Linked DNA regions of Homo sapiens. The protein of the gene in region 1 interacts with the protein of each later gene in a pairwise test. Each region holds a gene or a part of one and is shown on either strand. Other genes may lie near its edges.

Evidence for each region. The genes of interacting proteins can lie anywhere in the genome.
Region 2: the proteins of ABHD17A (region 1) and HPGDS interact in binary tests that used the Homo sapiens proteins (3 or more experiments, as listed by UniProt).

What each region holds. Positions count from the first base shown.
Region 1 is NC_000019.10:1,882,489-1,890,183, forward strand, and holds the start of ABHD17A (alpha/beta hydrolase domain-containing protein 17A), read right to left. Parts: upstream 3,009-7,695; 5' UTR 2,864-3,008; intron 79-2,863; exon of another isoform or gene 1-78. UniProt on the Homo sapiens protein: Hydrolyzes fatty acids from S-acylated cysteine residues in proteins. Has depalmitoylating activity towards NRAS. Has depalmitoylating activity towards DLG4/PSD95. May have depalmitoylating activity towards MAP6.
Region 2 is NC_000004.12:94,339,824-94,346,789, reverse strand, and holds the start of HPGDS (hematopoietic prostaglandin D synthase), read left to right. Parts: upstream 1-3,953; 5' UTR 3,954-3,995; intron 3,996-6,966. UniProt on the Homo sapiens protein: Bifunctional enzyme which catalyzes both the conversion of PGH2 to PGD2, a prostaglandin involved in smooth muscle contraction/relaxation and a potent inhibitor of platelet aggregation, and the conjugation of glutathione with a wide range of aryl halides and organic isothiocyanates.

The sequences.
Region 1 (7,695 bases):
CTTCTCCACCCCTGACTTAGGGTTCCGTGACCGTGGGCGAGTCCCTTGCCCTCCTGAGGCCTCAGCATTCTCATCTATAAGTGCAGACACCACACACCCCACAGGAAGTCAAGTGAGGGGGGAGGGGAACGAAGGTGCCTGATTGAGAGTGGAAACTCGGACCTTCTTCCTTGCTGCAGAACGTCATGAAACACATTAAGTCGACAACAGCTAAGTTGCTAAAGCAACCACAATAGTGTAAGGACCTGCCAACAGACAGACGTGAAGAAAACACGAAGGTCTGAGACGTCTATCTACCGACCACGCTTCTCCTTCAGACTGGAGCGAGGAGAGAGACACGCTCACAACTCAATTTCAGCAGAACACCCTGGAATGCTTGGCTTTTGGGTCACAGCATGAGAAAACCGTGGGGCCAGGAAGATGAGGCTCAAAGGCAGATGTGGACACAGATGGACATGCAGGCAGCTGCAGGCGCCACAGACACGGCTCGTGGGGACACCCTCACTACCAAGGAGCAGCCTCAGGCCCAGAAACACACCTGCTCCCTCAGGACCTGATGTGAGACCCACGTTCCTGTGAGCCGGACTCATGGGCACACGAGGAGGAGAGGAGAGAGCTCTGAAAGCCAGGGTGGGGCAAGGATGGCATCCCAGTGCCCCCAGACTCCCAGGCGGAAGGCAAATCGCACATGCAAGCACTTTTCAGCCGGGAGGTGGACTGTCAGGCTGGTTCTGCTTCTCAGATGGAGGCGAGTCTCCCTCCTGGAGACACCTGTCAATGTCTGGACACAGTTTTGGGTGTCACCACTGGGGACTGGGTGGAGGCTGCTTAGCACCCTGCAGTGCCCAGGACAGACCCACCCCAAAGAATGATCAGGCCCAACATCCACAGCGTCGAGGTTGATGTCAGCTTTTCAACATATTCTCAAAGAGGTCCAGGCCCTACCGGTGCTGCCCCGCTGGTGCTGGGGACTTGGAGGGCCCTGCAGTTTAGGTGGCATCATGCAGCTGGGTCCTGAGAGCCCAGTGGACAGCAGCAGGCCCCTGGAGACCCCGGAGACGAAGGGGCACACCGAGGTGGCCAGGGCCCCACTATCCAGGCCAGAAACAAAGATGTTATCCTTGACACCTCCTTCCACCCACTGGATCTGAGCCGGTCCATCACCAGCCCGGTGGCTCTGCCTGTCTCCCATCAGCCACCGCCCGGTCCCTGCCTCCATCACCTTTCACCAGAGCCACAGCAACAGCCTCCCTCCTTGCTGATCACCTGCTCCAGGACATTCTCCCCCAGCAGCCAAACAATCTTTCACGACACAAATGCAATGGAGCCGCTTCCCTCTTGGGGTGTCCTGGGGGCCTCCCATTATTCCCTGGATAGAGATCAAAGCCCTCCCCACAGCCTGCCAGGTCCGCATTCCGGCTCAGGCCGACCTCTCCAGACTCACTCATCTCACACCCTGCCACTCCTGGCTCCCTCAAGACAAGCCAAATTGCCCCTTCCTGCCTCTGCTCCTCTGCCAGGAACTCCCTTCCCCAACCTCACTAGACAGCCTTGCCCAACCCAACCACCCTTTGCACCTCACTGCCAACGCTCTCAGAGTCCTCAAAGCTGGGACAGGACCCCTTACACGCTCTTTCCACAGCTTGTATTTTTCACACGTTTGGCCAGATCTCCCCCCACCTCCAAACCAGAAACTCTATGAGAGCAGGACCATGACCTGCCACTCACTAAAGGAATGGGCAGGTGGTAGGCAGCACAGAATTAAGGAGGAAGCACAGGAGGAAAAGAATCCCCAAGGTCCGCCAGCTTTGACAGGGAAGGGAAAGTCTAGTCTCCTCTCCTCTCCAGCCACAGGTACCTGGAACCTCCCTAGTGTCACTAATGGGCGTGGACTGGGGAGTGCAAACCCAGACGCCTCACTCACTGGGCACACACCCTTGACACCCTGAATCCCACCAATTCCGTTCCCACGCACTTAACTGGGCAACCCTCTGCAAGCTAGAGGTGTTCTGAGGACCAGCAAGCAACCGAGCAGCCAAAATACTGGAAGATGACCTACATATGGGAGACGGTGACTGCACCTCACTCAACCAGTCAGGGTGGGAAACCCGCCTGGGGGGAGGCGCGGCCATATCAGAGGGCAGACAAACGGGCCAGGTGACAGGGGGATGGGACAGAGGGACAAGCAGGAGCAAAATCCGAGGTGACAGAGCAGGCTCCTGGCTAGAGCAGACCCTGGGAGGAAGAAGTGAGCAGAAGGGTCCTAAGAGAGAGCCTGGGACGGGTGAGGTCGCGCCCCCGAGAGTTTGCACTTCATCCTGGGAGAAATGGCGGGGCCGCGAAGAAGTCCCGAGCAAGCGATGGACAACATAGGAGAAGGGCTGCATCCCGGAGAACGGACGCGAGCGGAGGCCGGGAAGCCCGCCCAGGAGTCAGGGTGGCAGGAAGAAGCCTGACAAGGGAAACAGCGACTGGGAGCTGGTTGGGAAGCAGGGCTCGGGAGGGCCCCTGGGAGCTGCCTTGGGGGGCGAGAGGCCGAAGCGTTTGTCGGACTGGGGGCAGTTTCGGGGCAAAAGAGCGGAATCCGCGGCTCGGACGGGTGCTCCCCGAAGGCAAGGGCCGCGTCCGCAGGAGGGTGGGAGCGCAACCCACGCCGGAGGGCTGAATGGATGGGGACAGGGCTTTCCCAATCACAGACGCTCATCCGCGGTCCGCGCCCCTGCTCTGGGCTCCTCGGGCAGGACCCGCGGAAGCCCTGGGACTGCAGGGGTCTCGGGGACGTCCAACCGGGCTGTCAGGCCCTCGAGGCCCGGCCCGGGACCCCGCGCGGCCGCGCCCGCCCCCGCCCCTGCCCGGCACTCACCACCCCGGCCCGCGCCCCCGGGCCCCAGGGCCGCGCTCCATGGCTCCCGGCCGCCCGCCCGTGCGTCCGTCGGTCCCTCCGCACCCCTGCCCGGCCTCCTGCACCGCCACCGCCGCAGCTCCCCCCACGGACGGAAGTGAGCCTCGTTCTCACCACCGCCCCGGAAGTGACGCGAGGAGCGCGCGGGGCGGGGGTCTGCAGGCACAGAGCGACCGCGCGACTAGCGTCCTGGGGGCGGGGCTGATATGTCGAGGGGCGTGGCCTGCTGCTCTGTGGGCGGGGCCAAACTTAGGTTTCATTCACTTGGGGACCCGGAATAGGTTGAGGCCAGTAAAGTTCTCGCCTGGAAAACAAAATTTACAGGGACGCCAAAAAAAACTCAGACATCAACATTTAGAAATGTTTTAAAATATTTTTCTTTATGAGATGGAGTCGCGCTCTGTCGCCCAGGCTGGAGTACAATGGCGCGATCTCAGCTCACTGCAACTTCTGCCTCCTGGGATCAAGCGATTCTCCTGCCTCAGCCTCCTGAGTAGCTGGGATTACCGGCGCCCACCACCATGCCCAGCTAATTTTTGTGTTTTCAGTAGAGACGGGGTTTCCCCATGTTGGCCAGTGTGGCCTCGAACTCCTGACCCCAGAATCCTCCTGCCTCAGCCTCCCAAAGTGTTGGGATTACAGGCATCAGCCACCGCACCTGGCCTCTTTTTTTTAACATAGAGTCTACTCTGTCACCCAGGCTGGTGCCATCATAGCTCACTGCAGCCTCGACCTCCCAGGATCAAGTGAACCTCCTACTTCAGCCTCCTGAGTAGCTAGGACTATAGGCACAAGCCACCATGACCAGCTTATTTAAAGTCTTTATATATTGCTCATCAGAAATTCTTTTGCATTAGTTTTTAAAATATTACATTAGGCCGGGCACGGTGGCTCATGCCTGTAATCCCAGCACTTTGGGAGACTGAAACAGGTAGATCACCTGAAGTCAGGAGTTTGAGACCAAGCCTGACCAACGTGGTGAAACCCTGTCTCTACTAAAAATACAAATATTAGCCGGGCATGGTGGCACGCGCCTGTAGTCCCAGCTACTCCGGAGGCTGAGGCAGGAGAATCGCTTGAACCCGGGAGGCGAAGGTTGCAGTGAGCCAAGATCGGGCCACTGTGCTCCAGCCCAAGTGACAGAGCAAGAAGACTGTCTCAGATAAATAAATAAATAAATAAATAAATAAATAAATAAATAAATAAAACTATGATCACTCCACTGCATTCCAGCCTGGGCGAGAGAGCAAGATCCTGTCTCTTAAAAAAATTTCATTATGGGCTGGGCGCGGTGGCTCACGCCTATAATCCCAGCACTTTGGGAGGCCGAGTCGGGCAGATCATGAGGTTAGGAGATCAAGACCATCCTGGCTAACACGGTGAAACCTCATCTCTACTAAAAATACAAAAAGATAGCCGGGCGTGGTGGCGGGCGCCTGTAGTCCCAGCTACTCGGGAGGCTGAGGCAGGAGAACGGCGTGAACCCAGGAGGCAGAGCTTGCAGTGAGCTGAGACCGCGCCACTGCACTCCAGACTGGGCGACAGAGCGAGACTCCGTCTCAAAAAAAAAAAAAATTGCATTATGGCAGGGCCTAGTGGCTCACGCCTGTAATCTCAGCACTTTGGGAGAACGAGGCAGGCAGATCACCTGAAGTTAGGAGTTCAGCCTGGCCAACATGGTGAAATCCTGTCTCTACTAAAAATACAAAAATTAGGCCACCCTGGCCAACATGGTGAAACCCCATCTCTACTAAAAATACAAAAATTAGCCGGCTGTTGTGGCGCGCACCTGTAATCTCAGCTACTCCACGCCACTGCACTCCAGCCTGGGCGACAGAGCAAGACTCTGCCTCAAAAAAAAAAAAAGTAAAGAAAAGAAAATGGAAGAAGGTTACTGGAGAATCTCAGAGCGTGGTCAGGGCAGGCCTTTCTAAGGAAGTGACAGGGACAGGGGCAGAAAGGGCTGCAGACACCAAAGGGGCCCAGCCTGGAAGTGTGAGTGTGAATTGGTGGGAAGCCTTGCTTTTCAGGCCTTCTCTCATATGTGCCTTCCCCCCAGCTTTCGTGCCTTTTCCAGCTCAAAATGCTCCTCCAGCCTGCAGGCAACCGCAGCCCCCGCTCCGTCCCAGGGACTCTCATCTTAGCTCCACTGTTCTGAGATAAGCCTGAGGCTCCTGGGCCAATCCTGCCCCCAGGGGCTCATTCCTCAAATTCAGGACACAGCTGCCAGGGAAGGAATCAGGCTCAAAAGACTAGAGACTTAGAGATAGCCCAGGGTTTCTTTGCCTCATTTTCTTTCCTCTTTTTTTTTTTGGTTGTTGTTGTTTTGAGACAGAGTCTTATTCTGTCACCCATGTTGGAGTGCAGTGGCGCGATCTCGGCTCACTGCAACCTCCACCTCTCAGATTCAAGCTATTCTTCTGCCTCAGCCTCCCGAGTAGCTGAGCTAACAGGCACCCGCCACTGCACCCGGCTAATTTTTGTATTTTTAGTAGAGATGGGGTTTCGCTATGTTGGCCAGGCTGGTCTCGAACTCCTGACCTCAAGTGATCTGCCAGCCTCGGCCTCCCAAAGTGCTGGGATTACAGGCGTGAACCACCGCACCTGGCTGCTTTGCCTCATTTTCTGATTTTCCGGTGTTGTTGGACCTCTGGCGCCCCTGCTCAGGACTCAGCTGCCTGGGTCTCCCTGGGGCTGTCAAGAGCTGCCCCAGCGTTCCCCTGCCTCTGCTGTCCCCCTCGAGGCTCCCAGCCTCCGCTGAGGTTCTCCTGAGGTCCAAAGGCCAAAACAAGTCCAGGCTTCTTCCTAGGTCCTTGTGAATTCTCTGAGCACCAGGGCCAGAAGAGGCCTGTCCCCAGCCTCCTTCCCCCCTCCCATCTTCCCTGCAGCCCCTTCCCACTGTGAGCTAGGCAGGACCAGGGCTGGACCGCACCAGAAAGCCCAGCTCCACTTGTAAACGACAGCCCCCACAGGGACACAGGGAGACACCATCCAAGGGGAGGAGGATAAGCCCGCAGGGTGGCCCACCAATCCAAGGCCACCTGGTGAAAGGTAAACGCACGCTGTAAACACTCAAATGTCTCAGAAGGACACCCATCCCTTCCTCCTCCCCAGAGACCCTTTGTGATCGAGCCTCTGTCCCAATTGTCCCAGAAAATAGTGGGTGCTGTGGCTCATGTCTGAACCCCAGCATTTTGGGAGGCCAAGGTGGGAGGATTCTTTGAGGCCAGGAGTTCAAGGCTGCAGTGAGGTGTGATTGCACCACTGCACTCCAGCCTGGATGACAGAGGGAGATGCTGACTCTAAAAAATAAAAATGAGGGCTGGGCATGGTGGCTCACGCCTGTAATCTCAGCACTTTGGAGGCTGAGGCTGGAGGATCACTTGAAGTCAGGAGTTAAAGACCGGCCTGGCCAACGTGGTGAAACCCCATCTTTTTTACGTTGTTGTTTCTTTTTTGAAATGTTGTCTCTCACTGTTGCCCAGGTTGAAGTGCAGGGGGGTGATCTTGGCTCACTGCAACCTCCGTCTCCCGGGTTCAAGCAATTCTCTGCTTCAGCCTCCCGAGTAACTGGGATTATAGGCGCCTATCACCACATCCAGCTAATTTTTGTATTCTTAGTAGAGATGGGGTTTCACCATCTTGGCCAGGCTGGTCTTGAACTCCTGACCTCGTGATCCACTCGCCTTGGCCTCCCAAAATGCTGGGATTACAGGCGTGAGCCACCGTGCCTGGCCGATGAAACCCCATCTCTACTAAAAATACAAAAATTATCTGGGCATGGTGGCAGATGCCTGTAATCCCAGCTACTCTGGAGGCTGAGGCAGGAGACTCACTTGAACCCAGGAGGCAGACGTTGAAGTGAGTCGAGATTGTGCCACTGCACTTCAGCCAGGGCGACAAAGTGAGACTTGGTCTAAAAATAAAATAAAATAAAATAAAAAATGAAAATGAGGCCAGGTGCTGAGGTTCACACCTGTCATCCCAGCACTTCGAGAGGCCAAGCCGAGTGCATCACTTGAGGTCAGGAGTTCAAGATCAGGCTGGTCAACATGGAGAAACTCCATTTCTACTAAAAATACAAAAATTAGCTGGGTGTAGTGGTTCAAGCCTGTAACCCCAGCTACTCAGGAGGCTGAGGCAAGAGAACTGCTTGAGCCAGGGCGGCAGAGGTCACAGTGAGCCGAGATCACAGCGTTGCACTCCAGCCTGGGCGACAGAGCAAGACTCTGACTTCAAAAAAATAAAATAATAAAAAATAAGTCCGGGCGCCGTGGCTCACGCCTGTAATCCTAGAACTTTGGGAGCCCGAGGCGGGCGGATCACGAGGTCAGGAGATAGAGACCATCCTGGCTAACACGGTAAAACCCTGTTTCTACTAAAAATACAAAAAATTAGCCGGGCGTGGTGGCGGGCACCTGGAGTCCCAGCTACTCGGGAGGTTGAGGCAGGAGAATGGCGTGAACCCGGGAGGCGGAGCTTGCAGTGAGCTGAGATGGCGCCACTGCACTCCAGCCTGGGTGAAAATGCGAGACTCTGTCTCAAAAACAAATAAAAATAAAAATAAAAATAAAAATAAATAAATAAAAAAAAATGAAAAAAATCATACATTGAAAATGGGGGGAGCCACTAGTCCCTCTTCCCCTTCATGGTCTGCCCCAGCCATGCTGGCCTGGCCAGGAGTGCTGCTGCCTCAGGGCCTTTGCAGGTACTATGGCTCCTGCCTGCAGGGCCCTTCCCCATATGGCCCCCTGGCTTCCTTCTCCAGCATCCTCTGGCTCTACAGGAGGGCC
Region 2 (6,966 bases), on another chromosome or scaffold:
AGGCCCAGTCAGTTATGCAATTACACTCAAGGGTGCATGCACTATTTGTGATGTTGTTTTGTAGGCATTCAATGAGGTAATACAAGACAAGTGCTTGGTTCAATGCTTGGCCCACAGGAAATACTTAATGAATTTTAGCTATTTCTATTACTATTATTTGCCTACATATAGGAATCCTCTTTTAGCCAAAAGGCTAGGTAGTGAAAGATTTGCTCATAATCTTGGATATAATTACCATATCATTCTTCACAGTATCTGAAGAGGCAGACTTCAGATAATAGCATTATCATTATTGAAATCTGGGAAAACACAGACACTAAAATATTTGCAGGCATGTTTCAATTACTCAAGTAGGTTAGAAGCAGAAAAACATATTCTTTATTTCCTGTATTTTCAACCCCAGGTTTAAATACGTCACTTTTACATGTTTTTAGTTTTTCAAATAACTAACTATAAAAAGGAAAACTGTTTTATTAAATAAAATATACAAAAGTAAACCAGACCACTCTAGAATCTGAGCAAAGGAAGTTTTGTGGGCTTCTCCTGGATACTTCTCCCCTTCCCCATCAACAGACAAGCTAGAAAAGGAGAAATAGGTTTGTTTGAACACTTCTCTTTTACAAAAATAAATAAAGAGGAACAAATATGTGGGCCACGTTTTAAAAATTGTATGTGTTTTTCCATTACTTATCGAGCAACTGCTTGCTAAGCAAGGCACTAAGTGACTTAAATGCACAAACTCATTGAATCCTTTCAACTCTGAGTAGAATGATTTTTATCATCACCATTTTACAGATAAGGAAACTAAGGCAGCTGCCTAAAGTCCCAGAGCTTGCAAATAATGGAGTGGAGATTCCTCTAAGAGGTCATGATTCCAGGATGAAACTCTTTAATCACTATCTTGTATAGTCACATTACTACACAGGTGGGCAAATAAAGAAAACAAGGACAGAAATGGACTATGATTTAACGTTGGATTTTTAACAGCAGTTAGGAATTTGCTAATTCAATACCACAGGATTAAAAGTTTTCCAACTAGGAAGCCCCAGAGAAAATGAAGACATATTTATTAAATTATAATAGGCCTTTAAATGACTGTGTGGACATGATCATACAACTTGACACGTTTTTTCACGGGTATTTCTCATGCAGTCCAGTCTGGATCCACAACATGCTCCTGAAGGGTGTGTGGCATGAAGAAGTCACTGCCCTGGAGAGCAGGGAACTGAGAGGTAACAATCCATGAGGGGTTTTCACTTTGCCCTTGCCCTTTTCCTCCTCCCTATTCCAGTAGACACTTGGCTCCGTGCTCATTTCCTCAGAAGAGGATGAAGCAGGGTGAAAAATGAAAGTTGCCTGACAGCTACTTCTCTTTCTGCTGTTAGTGCCCAAACCCAACCACAGAAAAGGAAAGAATTCTTGAGCATAGATTCTTGAAGGGAAACGATTTTCCCTTCAGGTGAACTGCTAATAATATTAACAATTGCTCTCACTCATGGATCCCTAACTATGCATTAGGCACACTTTGAAGCACATATCTGTGTACTCATTTAATTCTGTAAAAGCTTATGAGAGAGTTATTACTAATATTGTTAGAATGCTCCATGAAGATTTGTTTTTGTCTGATTTTATTTAGTGCTATATCTCTATTTATTTACTTATTTATTTTTGAGATGGAGTCTCGCTCTGTCGCCAGGCTGGAGTGTAGTGGCACGCTCTCGGCTCACTGCAATCTCTGCCTCCCGGGTTCAAGCGATTCTCCTGCCTCACACTCCCGCGTAGCTGGGATTACAGGCGTGGGCCACCACACCTGGCTGATTTTTGTATTTTTAGTAGAGATGGAGTTTCACCATGTTGACCAGGATGGTCTCCATCTCCTGACCTTGTGATCCACCTGCCTCGGCCTCCCAAAGTGCTGGGATTACAGGAGTGAGCCACCGCGCCCAGCCTTATTTACTGCTATATCTCTAGCGTTCAGAACAATACCTGGCAAAGATTAGGAACAAATAAATATTTATTGTAGAATCAATCTCCATCTAAAGGTGAAGGAGCTCAGGCACAGAGAGATTAAGTTACCTGCCCAAAGGCCCACAGCTGGTAGAAGACTAGGAGAGTTAGAGCACCCCCACCTGGGCTGGGAGAAGAGACAAGAGGATGGGAAAGCTGTGCTTCCCGAGTAGAGGAGATCTGGGACCCTCTCCTGGGACCCTCTTGTGCCTCCAGGGAGGTAGAAAGACCACAGAGAAGAAGTGGCTCTGTTGGGTACTGGGCAGGTGGAATCTCAGGCAGCGTTGTGATGAAACCACCACACTGGGGCAAGAAGGTAGCAAAATGAGAATGCTACAGGAGCTGCAGAGAGCTCCTGGCGTGGAGGCCATGCACACAAGGACAATGGATGCCTCTAGAGCAGCCTCTGTTGATCGGTGACCAAGGATCAAGTGGCTGCTCCTTCCCCAATCCTTGATGTGTTACTCTGCTTTCCTCCAGCCAAAACAACTGGTCGTAAAAGATAAAATTGTAATACAAAATGAGAAAAGTGTTATTTTTTGTATACTTGATTTTTTTTTAACTGAAGCAGTCTCGTATTATATATAGGCAGCATTATGTAAGGAAAAATATTAAATGTGTCATCAGAAGGCCTAGATTTTAATCCTAGCTTGTCCCAACAAAAATTCGCAGGCAATTTACCTAATTTCCCTATGTCTCAGTTTCCTCATTTATAAAAATAGGGATTAAAAATCATTGAGGTGAGGATAAAAAGATTTTTTTGAAAATATAAGTTAAAGCTGTCAAAGATAATAAATGCATTGTGTTAATTTTGTATAGCTCCCACTCCCATCCCATTTGCACTTGATTTTGACACACATGTATCCTTTTTTGGTGGGTAAAGGGCTACACTTGCGTCTTCTCTTTTTACATACTAGTATTTACATTTATTTTCATTTCTGACGTTTATACTAAGTGGATGTAAACATATTTTTCAAAATTAAAAGCACTTTAGAAATAAGAAATATTAAATGATTGATATGTTGCTATTGTTGCCTGTGGGAGTAATTTTCTGGAAGTTGAAAGCCAGCTGGTCATTGAAATGTTTCATGGATAATCCTCAGGCTCAGTAAGGCCCAGGCAGGCATTTTATTGGATCTTTTCACTGAGCTGTCCTAATATTATAGATAAAAATAATTCCTGCACTAAGAAGTGAAACAATAAATTTCTAAAATGTCAGGCATTTGTTACTAAATTGTAAAAGGATCACAAACAAGATGAATTGGAAACTTCTACACCAGGTTTACTTTAAACACTTTGGCTTTTCTGAGAAATGAGAGTAAATGAAATAAACCAGCAACAATGCAAATTTACAGTCCTTGCAAAAACGTGAACTATAAATTAGGGTTATTCTATCATCAGATGTATATTAGTGGTCATGACATGCCTGGCACTCCTCTTAGAACTGAGGAGACAATAGTGAAAAAGACAGTGAAGTGCCTGCCTTTACAGAGCTTACATTCCACTGGGAGAAACCAAAAACAAACAAGTTAAATACACCACATTGTTAGACACTGCCTCGAAGGAACATACAGCAGGTACAGGAGAGACTGTTTCTAAAATAGAGAAGCAAGTCATGTGCACATCTGCAAAGATGATTTCATTACATTCAGGTTTTCTTATTCTCCAGGAGCCTATGGTGTAAAACTGAAAATAAGTGAACATGTAACAGTGGGCATACATATGCAGCTATAACTTTGACTTTACCTTGTATACAAATGTGTTGGTTTATTTATACCCAGATATCCTGTATAACCAGCAGTCTTCGCAGGCTTGAACTGCCTGGCATGCATGTTTTATCTAAGAAAAGAAGGAAGAGCGTTAGGTAGAAGGAAGTTGCCTGTCCTCTCACTGGCTCGTGATTATCACTTACTCGTCATATAAACCCAAGGCACAGTCACATACCCAGGGATACAAGACACTGCAGACTCCCGAGAGACATAACACAGGTAAGTCATATTACTGAACTCCACATAGGTAATAAATGAGATATGCTTTACTCTTTACTTCAGAGTTTTTATTATTCTCATATCCTGTTTGTGACTAACTGTCTTGTGAGCTATTTTCATGATGGTGCTCACTCTGACCTTGTCTTACCCAGAACCTCTCCATATATGCGAATATGTGAAACTCAAATAGTCATTTTTAAGGAAATATAGGTACAGGAGATTTAAGAAGATCTCTTCAAGTGGATTTTAACATAGAAAATATAATCAATGCTAGAGGAAAAATCCTGTCTTAATCAGGGTTTGTTACTACTTCCAGAATTTTCCCAAGTGATTCTTCAATAACTTGGATTGATGGAGTAGAGAATATTATCTCATGGCTGTTCAATTTCTTTCCTTTGCTTTAAAGTTTAAGACTTTTACTGGTAATATTTTATATTATTTTAAGGCACATTTTGTTGAAGCATCTCCATGTTTTGATAAGAATTGCAACCTATCATCTTTTGGCTTCAGAGATGGTTTAAGGGATTTACCCCAGGCCAGGAATTTCAACTCACAGCTCCCAAAGGATATTTCAGTTATTCCTCTTGCTTTGGCTTTAATGTGAAACAGTCACTTAAAATGACATTTAGTTGATATTTGATAAAAAAAAAAAAAATAGAGCTTTCAGCTTGCTAATTCAAAGTTAAACATCCAGTGCTTGATTGAAATCAATATCTTACTCAGTCAACAACAATTCTTCTATTTCTCTATTGTCCTATAATTTAACTCCAACCTGGCAACTTTTCCAGAATTGAACTTGAAATGCCCAGGGACACTGTGAAATGAGGGAAATTAACATTCTTTACCATCAAATGTTAGGGGTAATAAAAAGCTGTTTTAATGTCAGTATATGCAAGAAGTTCCCCTGTGAACAATAGTATCTCACATGATTGCTGTCTGAATCCAATTTTTACATTTCAGAACACCAGGGTCTATATAATAGGAGTGTAAACATGCTCTAGGCCATTACATTTTGTATAAGTTTATTACTGGGCAAGTTAAGATCTGCATCTTAAACTCAAAGAAGAGCTATAGCAAATTCACAAGTAATCTTTGTTTTTATATCTCTAACTCAGATTATTGCGCAATTACTAAGCATGTAAAAAACTGTGTCTGGAATGCCCAAATATGTTTGAATTCTTGATGTGTCGTATTTAAGAGTAAGAGCTTACGTTGGCTAACATTTTGTATTGAACTGTAGAATGGTCAATACTTAATTCCTCATTTGTAAGTTTTCTATCTAACAAAATTATTCCAAAAGTTCTCTTTTTTGAACTAAAAATATTTCGGCTGAAGTCTTTATTAAGATGTTTAGTATAGGCATTGGATATTGATTAGCCTGTGTTGTCAGAGAGTTGAAATTGGATTGTTGTCATCTTTCTGGCACAGAGACTAGAATTTTTGAGACTATTTTTTACTGTGCTTTTACAGCAGTATACGGAATAATATATTGTTAAATTGTTTTATTATAAAAGTTTGTAATTTTTTCAATGATTATGTTAAAATTGCCTCTGGGATTGAATTAATCAGATGAAATAAATCAGCATTGTATTAGTTAGTTTTCACGCTGCTGATTAAGACATACCTGAGACTGGGTAATTTATAAAGAAAAAAAAGTTTGGCCGGGCGAGGTGGCTCAGCCTGTAATCCCAACATTTTGGGAGGCCGAGGCTGGCGGATCACCTGAGGTTAGGAGGTCCTGGCCAACATGGCGAAACCACGTCTCTACTAAAAATACAAAAATTAGCTGGGCGCGGTGGTGGGCGTCTGTAATCCCAGCTACTGGGGAGGCTGAGGCAGGGAGAATCGCTTGAACCCGGGAGGCGGATGCTGCAGTGAGCCGAGATTGCGCCACTGCACTCCAGCCTGGGCGACAGAGCAAGACTCCGTCTCAAAAAAAAAAAAAGAAAGAAAAAAAAAAAGAAAAAAATTTGCCGGGCGTGGTGGTTGGTGCCTGTAATCCCAGCTACTCTGGTGGCTGCGGCAGGAGAATCGCTTGAACCCGGGAGGCAGAGGCTGCGGTGAGACGAGATCACGCCATTGCACTCCAGGCTGGGCGACAAGAGTAAAACTCCGTCTCAAAAAAAAAAAAAAAAAAAAAAAAAGGGAGGGGGGCGGGCCGGGCCCGGTGGCTCACCCCTGTAAACCCAGCACTTTGGGAGGCTGAGGCAGGCGGATCACGAGGTCAGGAGATCGAGACCACCCCGGCTAACACGGGGAAACCCCATCTCTATTAAATATACAAAAAAATTAGCTGGGCGTGGTGGCGCGTGCCTGTAGTCCCAGCTACTCGGGAAGCTGAGGCAGGAGAATGGCGTGAACCCGGGAGGTGGAGCTTGCAGTGAGTGGAGATCACGCCACTGCACTCCAGCCTGGGCGACAGAGAGAGACTCCGTCTCAAAAAAAAAAAAAAAAAAAAAAAAAAAAAAAAAAAAAAAAAAAAAGAGAAAGAAAGAAAGAAAGAAAGAAAGAAAGAAAGAAAGAAAGAAAGAAAGGTTTAGACCAGGCACAGTGGCTCACACCTGTAATCCCAGCACTTTGGGAGGCCCAGGCAGGCGGATCACAAGGTCAGATGATCGAGACCATCCTGGCCAACATGGTGAAACCCCATCTCCACTAAAAAATAAAATACAAAAATTAGCTGTATGTGGTGGCGCACACCTATAATCCTAGCTACTTGGGAGACTGAGGCAGGATAATCGCTTGAACCCAGGAGGCGGAGATTTCAGTGAGCCCAGATTGCGCCACTGCACTGCAGTTCCACATGGCTGGGGAGACCTCACCATCATAGCGGAAGAGGAAGGGATGTCTTACATGGCAGCAGGCAAGACAGAACCAGAGCCAAGTTAAAGGGGAAATCCCTTATAAAATGATCAGATCTCGTGAGACTTATTTACTACCATGAAGTCAGTATGGGGGAAACCGCCCCCAT